2 separate regions of the Homo sapiens genome follow, and region 1 is linked to region 2. Evidence: fine-mapped expression QTL. A gene starts in region 2. The other region holds a variant in brackets. All regions are shown on one strand. Distances are from middle to middle. Region 1 has its middle 7.7 kb from the start of NICN1. Region 2 holds the start of P4HTM (prolyl 4-hydroxylase, transmembrane).

Region 1 (5,370 bases), 450 kb before region 2:
AGTGGCTCACGCCTGTAATCCCAGCACTTTGGGAGGCCGAGGCAGGCGGATCACCTGAGGTCAGGAGTTCGAGACCAACCTGACCAACATGGAGTAACCCCGTCTCTACTAAAAAATACAAAATTAGCAGGGTGTGGTGGTACATGCCTGTAATCCCAGCTACTTGGGAGGCTGAGGCAGGAGAATCGCTTGAACTCAGGAGGCAGAGGTTGCGGTGAGCCGAGAATGCGCCATTGCACTCCAGCCTGAGCAACAACAGTGAAACTCCGTCTCAAAAAATATATAAATATAAATATAAATAAATAAATAGGCCTGGCGTGGTGGCTCACACCTGTAATCCCAGCACTTTGGGAAGCCAAACAGGGTGGATCATGAGGTCAGGAGTTCAAGACCAGCCTGGCCAAGATGGTGAAACCCCGTCTCTACTAAAAATACAAAAATTACCTGGGTATGGTGGCAGGTGCCTGTAATCCCAGCTACTCAGGAGGCTGAGGCACGAGAATCGCTTGAACCTGGGAGGTGGAGGTTGCAGTGAGCCGAGATCGTGCCACTGCACTCCAGCCTGGGCAACAGAGTGAGACTCCAACTCAAAAATAAATAAATACATAAATAAGGCCGAGCACGGTGGCCCACGCCTGTAATCCCAGCACGTTGGGAGGCCGAGGTGGGTGGATCACTTTAGATCAGGAGTTCGAGACCAGCCTGGCCAACATGGTGAAACCCTGTCTCTACTAAAAATACAAAAACTAGCCAGGCGTGGTGGCACGTGCCTGTAATCCCAGCTTCTTTTGAGGCTGAGGCAGGAGAATTGCTTGAACCTGGAAGGCAGAAGGTGTAGTGAGCCAAGATCATGCCACTGCACTCCAGGCTGAGGGACAAGAGTGAAACTCTGACTGTAACAAAGAAAATAAATAAATAAATAAATAAATAAAGCCAGGCACGGTGGCTCACACCTGTAATTCCAGCACTTTGGGAGGCCAAGGTGAGTGGATCACTTGACATCAGGAATTTGAGACCAGCCTGGCCAACATGGTGAAACCCCGTCTCTACTAAAAATGCAAAAATTAGTCAGGTGTGGTGGCACACACCTGTAATCCCAGCTACTCAGGAGACTGAGGCAGCAGAATCTCTTGAACCTGGGAGGAGGAGGTTGCAGTGAGCTGAGATTGTGCAACTGCACTCCAGCCTGGGCGACAGAGCAAGACTCCATCTCAAAAAATAAAAATAAAAAATAAAACTATGAAAAGGACAGTGGTAGGCCGGGCACAGTGGCTCACGCCTGTAATCTCAACACTTCGGGAGGCCGAGGCGGGTGGATCACCTGAGGTCGGGAGTTTGAGACCATCCTGACCAACATGGAGAATCCCTGTATCTACTAAAAATACAAAATTAGCCAGGCGTGGTGGCGCATGCCTGTAATCCCAGCTACTAGGGAGGCTGAGGCAGGAGAATCGCCTGAACTCGGGAGGCGGAGGTTGCAGTGAGCCGAGATCGTGCCATTGCCCTCCAGCCTGGGCAACAAGAGCAAAACTCCGTCCAAGAAAAAAAAATAAAAGGGCAGTGGTAGTTATATGTATATAAACAATTTGTTTTTGGAGAGTCAGGGTCTGGCTATGTTGCCCAGGCTGGAGAGCAGTGGCTATTTACAGGTGTGATCAGGTATGTGCAATCTCTTTTGGCTGACTGGTAATTTTGAAATGAATGCCAAACATTGTAAATTTTACCTTTTCAAATGCTGGATAGCATTGTATTCCTATAGATATTTTTGAGCATTGTTCTTTAATACATTTAAACATTTGATTATTTTGAGGCTTGATTTTAATCTTTGTTAGGTAGGATCAGAGTAGATTTTAGCTTCACACAAATTTTCATCCATAATGTATGGCAATACCCTTTTTTTTTTTTCTGGAGACAGAGTATTGGTCTGTCGCCCAGGCTGGAGTGCCCTGTCACGTTCTTGGGTCACTGCAACCTCTGCCTCCTGGGTTCAAGCAGTTCTCATGTCTCAGCTTCCCAGGTAGCTGGGCTTACAGGTGTGCACCAACAATACACCTGGCTAATTTTTGTATTTTTAGTAGACATGGGGTTTCCTCATGTTGATCACGCTGGTCTCAAACTCTTGGCCTCAAGTAATCCACCTGCCTCAGCCTCCCAGAGTGCTGGCCAGCAATACCCTTTTTTTTGAGAAGGAGTTTTGCTCTTGTTGCCCAGGCTGGAGTGCAATGGCGCAATCTTGGCTCACCACAACCTCTGCCTCCCGGGTTCAAGCGATTCTCCTGCCTCAGCCTCCTGAGTAGCTGGGATTACAGGCATGTGCCACCACGCCCAGCTAATTTTGTATTTTTAGTAGAGATGGGGTTTCTCCGTGTTGGTCAGGCTGGTCTCGAACTCCCGACCTCAGGTGATCTGCTCACCTCAGCATCCCAAAGTGCTGGGTTACAGGCATGAGCCACCTCACCTGGCCTTTTTTTTTTTTTTCTGTTTTTTTTTTTGAGATGGAGTCTCACTCTGTTGCCCAGGCTGGAGTGCAGTGGCGCAATCTTGGCTTACTGCAACCTCTGCCTCCCGGGTTCTAGCGATTCTCCTGTCTCAGCCTCCTGAGTAGGTGGGACTATAGGCACGCATCACCACACCTGGCTAATTTTTTATATTTTTAGTAGAGATGAGGTTTCATCATATTAGCCAGGCTGGTCTCGAACTCCTGATCTCATGATCCGCCCCCATCGGCCTTCCACAGTGCTGGGATTACAGGCATGAGCCACCGCACCCGGCCCAGCAATACCCGTTTAAGCATGCTACACAATGCCCCATGAATTAGGAGGGCTTTAGCTATGGCTGGTGGAAACACAATTTCTGGCTCAGACTAAGAGTTGCTGATTGTTATTTTTACTCTTTTTGGGTAATTCTTTCACTGGCTTGGGTAGTTTCCTCACATACTCGTAAGATTTGGTGATAGTTATCTTATTCTTTTTTGTTTGTTTGTTT[GTTTT/T]TTGAGACGGAGTTTCACTCTTTTTGCCCAGGCTGGAGTGCAATGGCACGATCTCGGCTCACTGCAACCTCCGCCTACCAGGTTCAAGCAATTCTCCTGCCTCAGCCTCCCAAGCAGCTGGGATTACAGGCACCCACCACCATACCTGGCTAATTTTTTGTATTTTTAGTAGAGACGGGGTTTCACCATGTTGGCCAGGATGGTCTTGATCTCTTGACCTCGTGATCTGCCCACCTTGGCCTCCCAAAGTGCTGGGATTACAGGTGTGAGCCACCGGGCCTGGCCTAGTTATCTTATTCTTTTTGGGTAATTCTCTCCCTGGGGTTGGGTAGTTTCCTCACATACTTGTGCTGATTATCACTCAGCTGAAGCCTCAAGGAACCGCCTTGGAAATCGCCTGTTATCTCTCTATGGAGTTCTGTCCTCTCTAATCTCTAATCATTTTGCCTCTCCAAATTGCCACTTTGTTTCTCTTATTTTTTATTTTTCTTTTTTTAAGATGGAGTCTCCCTCTGTCACCGAGGATGGAGTGCAGTGGCGCGATCTCAGCTTACTGCAACCTCTGCCTCCCAGGTTCAAGAGATTCTCCTGCCTCAGCCTCCCAAGTAGCTGGGACTACAGGTGTGCACCACCACGCCCAGCTAATTTTTGTATTTTTTTTTTTATTTTCAAGATGGAGTTTCACTCTTGTCACCCAGGCTGGAGTGCAATGGCGTAATCTCGGCTTACTGCAACCTCTGCCTTCCGGGTTGAAGCGATTTCTCCTGCCTCAGCCTCCCAAGTACCTAGGATTACAGGCTCATGCCACCATACTGGACTTTTTTTTTTTTTTTTGAGACAGAGTTTCCCTTTTGTTGCCCAGGCTGAAGTGCAATGGCTCGATCTTGGCTCACTGCAACCTCCACCTCCTGGGTTCAAGCGATTCTCCTGCCTCAGCCTCCTGAGTAGCTGGGATTACAAGCATGGGCCACCATGCCTGGCTAATTTTTTTGTATTTTTAGTAGAGACGGGGTTTCTCCATGTTGGTCAGGCTGGTCTCAAACTCCCGACGTCAGGTGATCCGCCCGCCTTGGCCTCCCAGCATGCTGGGATTACAGGTGTAAGCCACCGCGCCCGGCCTTTTTTTGTATTTTTAGTAGAGATGGGGTTTAGCCATGTAGGCCAGGCTGGTCTCGAACTCCTGACCTCAAATAATCCGCCTGCCTTGGCCTCCCAAAGTGCTGGGATTACAGGTGTGAGCCACCTCACCTGGCCTAATTTTTGTTTTTGTTTTTTTTTTTTTGAGACGGAGTTTCGCTCTTGTTGCCCAGGCTGGAGTGCAATGGCGCGATCTTGGCTCACCGCAACCTCTGTCTCCCGGGTTCAAGCAATTCTCTTGCCTCAGCTCCAAGTAGCTGGGATTACAGGCATGCACCACCACCCCGGCTAATTTTGTATTTTTAGTAGAGACGGGGTTTCTCCATGTTAGCCAGGATGGTCTCGATCTCCTGACCTTGTGATCCGCCCGCCTCTTCCTCCCAAAGTGCTGGGATTACAGGTGTGAGCCACTGCGCCCGGCTTTATATTCTTATTTTTTGTGATCTTGGCTCACTGCAGCCTCGAACTCCTGGCCTCGGTGATTCTCCAATGTCAGCCTCCTGAGTAGCTGGAACTACCGGCATGAGCCACCATGCTCGGCTAATTTTTGTATTTTTTGTAGAGACGGAGTTTCACCATGGCTGACCTCAAACTCCTGGGCTCACACAATCATCTTGCCTCAGCCTCCCAAAGTGCTGGGATTGCAGGCATAAACCACTGTGCTCAGCCTTTTTTCTTCCTTTTTTTTTTTTTGAGACAGATTCTCACTCTGTCACCTAGGTTGGATTGTGGTGGTGTGATACAGCCGTGACTCAGGCTCAAGAGATCCTCCAGCCTCAGCCTCCTAAAGTGCTGGGATTATAGGCATGAGCCACTGTGCTTGCCTATCTGGTTCTTTTTTTTTTCTTTTGAGACGGAGTCTCACTCTGTCACACAGGCTGGAGTGCAGTGGCGTGATCTCGGCTCACTGCAACCTCTGCCTCCCAGGTTCAAGCAATTCTCCTGCTTCAGCCTCCCAAGTAGCTGGGACTACAGGTGCGTGCCACCACGCCCGGCTAATTTTTTGTATTTTTAGTAGAGGCGGAGTTTCACAGCGTTAGCCAGGATGGTCTCAATCTCCTGACCTCGTGATCCACTCGCCTTTCCTCCCAAAGTGCTAGGATTACAGGTTTGAGCCACGGTGCCCGGCCGCATTTTTGAGATGAAGTCTTGCTCTGTTGCCAGGCTGGAGTGCAGAGGCGTGATTGTTGCTCACTGCCACCTCTGCCTCCCGGGTTCAAGTGATTCTCCTGCCTCAGCTTCTC
Region 2 (5,370 bases):
CAGATCCCAGGAAGGCTGCTGAGAGAAAACAGTGCCTCCTCAGATGTGTCTGTTCATAGTAGTCGTTAGTAGTGTAGTAGTAATGGGGTGAGTATTAGTTCCTTCCTGGACCCCTCTTTCCTGACAGTCATCTGGCTTTATCCCATACTTCCCACAAGTCGTTGCTCAGATTTTTTTTTTTTTTTTTTGAGATGGAGTTTCATTCTTGTTACCCAGGCTGGATGCAATGGCACAATCTTGGCTCACCACAACCCCTGCCTCCTGGGTTCAAGCGATTCTCCTGCCTCAGCCTCCCAAGTAGCTGGGATTACAGGCATGTGCCACAACGCCCTGCTAATGTTGTATTTTTAGTAGACGGGGTTCCCCCATGTTGGTCAGGCTGGTCCCGAACAACCTGACCTCAGGTGATCCACCCGCCTCGACCTCCCAAAGTTCTGGGATTACAGGCGTGAGCCACCGCGCCCAGCCTTGCTCAAATATTTTTTTCAGGCAGGTCCACCTTGGCTACCTTATTAAGGGTTCCAGCCAGGCATGGTGGTTCACACCTGTAATCCCAGCACTTTGGGAGGCTGAGGAGGGCAGATCACCTGAGGTCATGAGATTGAGACCATCCTGGCTAACACGGTGAAAGCCCGTCTCTACTAAAAATGCAAAAAATTAGCCGGATGTGGTGGCGCATGCCTGTAATCCCAGCTACTTGGGAGGCTGAGGCAGGAGAATCACTTGAACCCGGAAGGCGGAGGTTGCAGTGAGCTGAGATCATACCATTGCATTCCAGCCTGGACAACAAGAGAGAAACTTAGTCTAAAAAAAAAAAAAAAAAAAAAGAGTTCTAATCCCAGCTGAACTTCTGCCTTACTGTCTGCTATTTTTTTTTTTCTTTGAGATAGGGGTCTCTCTCTGTTGCCCAGGCTGGAATGCAGTGGTGCGATCTTGGCTCACTGCAACCTCTGCCTCCTGGGTTCAAGTAATTCTCATGCCTCAGCCTCTTGAACAGCTGGGATTACAGGTGTACACCACCACACCCGGCTAATTTTTGTATTTTTAGTAGAGATGAGATTTCACCATGTTGGTCAGGCTGGCCTCAAATTCCTGACCTGAAGTGATCTGCCTGCCTCAGCCTCCCAAAGTGCTGGGATTATAGACATGAGCCACCACGCCCGGCCCTGTCTGCTATTTTATGTTGGCAAAAAAGAAAAAAGAAAAAAAATCTGCCTTACTTGTTTGCAATCACATATCACCATCTGACACACCAATGTATATATTTATTTGTTTGTTTATTGTCTGTTTCCTCTTCATTTGAATGTCAGCTTCAGGGTTTTGTTTCATTGTTTATATTTAGTTCAATGCTGTGTTCCTGGCACCTAAAATAGTGCCTGGCACAGACTTCAACGTTACTCAATAGTAATAGTAATAATAACAACAACCAGCTTTGGGTGCCTCTCCCACAACAGGACTGACAGCATAATCTATTTCCCTACAAACAGCATGCATATGACATCATTCTGACAGGTCTAGGCATAATCCCCAACCAGGACCCTCTGCCTTGGAGGTAATGACTTGTGCTCAGATGTTCTACTTTGGCCCCAGCTCCTAACCCATTCCATCCCCCGGCAGGCAGGAATGGCCCTGGGTTTGCAAATATGTTTGTCACGGAGGCCAGGTACCCAGGGCTGGGCTACACAAACACCCTGGACAATGTCCATGGGACTAGGGGTCCCCACCCAGTTGACACTGGTGGTCTTTGAAGGACTCTGGGGTCTTCACAGCTCGCACTGTGGCTTTACTGCATAGGCCTTAGAGGCAGGCTATGTGGGTTCTAATCCTAGCTTCACCACTGAAGTAACCGTGTCAGCCTGGCCAAGCCACAGCAGCTCTCTGTCCCTAACTTTCCCCCTCACTGGCCTGAGTAGGATCTACACCCACTTCACAGAGGGGTTGCAGGAATTAAATGAAATAATCATATGAAGGCAAGCACATAACTAGAGCTCAGAAACGATGAGCTATGTTGTGGCTCCAACTGGAGTCACCCTAGAAAGCTTTGCCCATGATGGCTGAACAAAGACTTCACCTTAAGAAGAATCTCAGAGTGCTGGCAGCAAAAGCTGAGCCTCTGACTGGTACTCCAGTGGAGGAGGCTGGGGGGGTACCAGTTTATCTACATTTGGACGGCCTGCTTCTCATCAGACCACAAGGCCCACTTCGGCAGTGGGATTTTCCCCAGAGGTCCTGAGGTCGGCAGAAAGCTGGTTATCAGTCTCCCACCTTCCTCCCAGTTCTAGAAGGTGACAGAATTAATGGTGGCACGGAAGACAGGTGCAATGAAACGTTTAGACACCAGCCTCAGGCTCACCCTGCCAGCCCTGTGATGGAAGAATGGACTGCAGGGAGTTGGGATAAGAGGGAGTGTTACCCTATTTCGAGGACGGGGAAGGTCCTTCACTTTGGTAATCCTCTGGAAGGGCTGCTCTGAAGCAGCCATTTTCAAAATAGAGGTCACGTGGTCACAACGAGCCTCAAGGTGGCCACCAAACCGCAGCCCCTGGCCCTTCCCAGGAGTATCTGGCGGACTTACCGAAGAGCAGCGGCTTGAGGCTGAGGGTTCGGATGAAGTGATCCCTGTCGGTGACCAGCTGGACCTTACGCTCGTGCCCCACCTAAGGAAAAGGCGCACAGCGGGCAGCTGGGGCGCCAGACCGCGCTGCCCAAGAAGGGCCAAGTCGCCCCGGCCCGGAGAGCGACAGCAGGCGAGTGAGTGGGAGCGCGCGGGACCGACGCAGAGCAGCGCCGGGGGCAGCGTGGGGACCCGGGCTGAGCGCCGGTCCTCTCGGGCTCAGCCGTGCAGGGCCTGGAGCGCGGCGGGGCAGGGAGGTCCTCACCTTGATGCCCTCCAGCCGGGTGAGGGGACCTAAGGTGGGCTCGGGCCCGGGGCCCTGGGCACGGTGTTGGGGCCCGGGATCGCTGCTTTCGTCGCCGTTGCTGTAGTGCACGAAGAGCAGCAGCGCCAGCACGTTACCCAGGTACAGGTGCACGAACACCATCAGCACCAGGAAGTAGGCGCGCGAGCAGATGCCGCGGGGCTTGCACAGCGGACGCACCGGTGCGTCCTCGCCGTCGCCCAGCCCGGCCGCCGCCTGAGCCTGGCAGTGGTCTGGCGGCGCCCACTGCGGCCTCGAGGCCTCCTCGGCCGCCGCGGTCTCAGGCCGCTGGCCTGTCACCGCCGCTGCCGCCATGGCACCCAGGTCGCGCGCGCGCCCAGGGGAGGGGCCGCGGGGGTGCCCGCGCTGCGCAGTCGCCCGGACAACGGCCGCCAGGCCCGCGAGCGCCGCGGTCACTAGGAGACGGTGCCTGGGGGTGCTGAGCCCGCCCGGAGCCGCCTGCGTCCGCGCCGGGCTCGGCCTTCCTGCGCCTTGAGCCCCAGCCCACGCTGGGGCTTCTCTTCCCAAGCTGGGTTGCCGTCGGGCAGAGCTGTACACTCTCCAAGTCAGAAGCCAAGGTCCCAAGCGTAGACGCGGACAAGAGCGGCACCATTAAGGCATACACTAGTGGGAGCTTCTCGGTGCCTGCGTGAAGACGCCCTCTTGCCTCCGGGAAAAGTATCGTCTGCATCTTCTTGCTCCAGGAGCGGGGGTGGGGAGCGCAGCGCGGAGGAGGCAGCGCTGAGATGACTCAACAGTGCGGCATTTGGGGGCGCCGCGGAGGCTGGGACTGCGTAAGCGGCGATAGGGTAGGACCCACAGCCTCCTCGCAGGCATTCTTGGAGCTCGGTTCCGCGGTCGGTCCGGATCTCCCGGGAAGTCTCGCCGGAGTCAGGCAGGCCTTAGGAAGAAGCTGCCTGATGTGCAAGGTTTCATAGGCCGTCAGAGGGGGCATCCTGGAGGAGCCCTGGCATCAGGAAAGTGAGCCCCCCATGGCAGCCCGCAGGAATGAACCAGTGCTCAGGTATATGGAACACTCCTTGCATCAAAGCTGGCACGTGTGAAGAGGCGGGAAGGGACTCTTCCATAACTGAGACACCATTACCTCAGAGAAAAATTAAACAGATTATCACCAAAAACGGGGGTGGGGGGAGGACATACCTACCAGTGGTCAAGTGCCAAGGCATCCCTGCTCTTCTAGAGCTGGTTATCCTCAGGAAGAGATTACTACACGCCCTCAGGGCAGAAGCTGACCCCCCTCCCCGAGGTGGACTTGCAGGCAAGAGCAACACTTTTAAGGCAGGTCACACTGGTGGTTTCTCCCTACCCTGGTTAAGACCCCCACTACCTCTACTCCCATCTCCTCTCCCTTCCCCATAGCAAAGCATAGTCTGCATTTTCTAGTCCCCTCAAGTCAAGGCAGGCCAGGGGCTCCAAGGGCAGGCCCACCTCTTTCTTCTAAGATTTTTTGTGTGTGTGTGACGGAGTCTCACTCTGTCGCCCAGGCTGGAGTGCAGTGGCGCGATCTTGGCTCACTGCAACCTCTGCCTTCCGGGTTCAAGCAATTCTCCTGCCTCAGCCTACCAAGTAGCTGGCATGCGCCACCATGGCGGGCCAATTTTTTTTTTTGTATTTTTATTTATTATTATTTAGTTTTAATTTTTTAATTATAATTTTTTTTTTTTTTTTGATACAGAGTCTCGCTCTGTCGCCAGGCTGGAGTACAGTGGTGTGATCTCAGCTCACCGAAAGCTCCGCCTCCCGGGTTCAAGCAATTCTCCTGTCTCAGCCTCCCAAGTAGCTGGGACTACAGGTGCCCGCCACAATGCCCGGCTAATTTTTATATTTTTAGTAGAGACAGGGTTTCACCATGTTGGCCAGGCTGGTCTCAAACTCGTGACCTCAGGTGTTCCACCCACCTTGGCCTCCCAAAGTGCTGGAATTACAGACATAAGGCACCACACCCAGACCAAATCTCCTAAATTCTTAAATATAATAAACCAACCAACAGAACCATAATTTTACCAAGGATCTCATGGCTTTCTCATACCTTTTCTGGAATGAAGTTGAGACTATTTCCCTCTAGCCTTTTTTTTTTTTCCCCGAGACAGAGTCTTGCTCTGTCACCCAGGCTGGAGTGCAGTGGCTTCATCTCGGCTCACTGCAACCTCTGCCTCCCGGGTTCAAGCAATTCTCCTGCCTCAGCCTCCCAAGTAGCTGGGATTACAGGCACGTGCCACCACGCCCAGCTAATTTTTATATTTTTAATAAAGATGGGGTTTCACCATGTTGGCCAAGCTGGTCTCAAACTCCTGACCTCGTGATCCGCCCGCCTTGGCCTCCCAAAGTGCTGGGATTACAGGCATGAGCCACCGCGACCGGCCCCTCTAGCCTTTTAAAAACTAGAATTTGATCACCATAAAATCTGTACTTTGCTTAACCTATTTTCCTG

What was found. PIP is the estimated chance that this variant, and not a neighbour inherited with it, causes the effect. A credible set is the group of variants that fine-mapping cannot tell apart.
Region 1: its variant is the best candidate, but not a certain one, in a credible set for the expression of P4HTM in whole blood (TOPMed, PIP 0.59).

Annotation. Positions count from the first base shown.
Region 1 is chr3:49,434,372-49,439,741 of GRCh38, reverse strand. No RefSeq gene overlaps it. Among named protein-coding and RNA genes, the nearest start is that of NICN1, 7.7 kb to the right of the region's middle. The variant GTTTT/T (reference allele first, on the strand shown) is at 2,986.
Region 2 is chr3:48,988,120-48,993,489 of GRCh38, reverse strand. P4HTM (prolyl 4-hydroxylase, transmembrane) reads right to left here and starts at 3,249. Exons shown (of 9, transcript NM_177939.3): 1 at 2,880-3,249; 2 at 2,576-2,657. The coding sequence starts at 3,233. LOC124909376 (a long non-coding RNA gene) reads left to right here and starts at 3,618. Exons shown (of 2, transcript XR_007095903.1): 1 at 3,618-3,942. RefSeq lists enhancers at 2,277-2,838, 3,496-3,655, 3,403-3,965, 3,966-4,529 and a silencer at 3,006-3,385.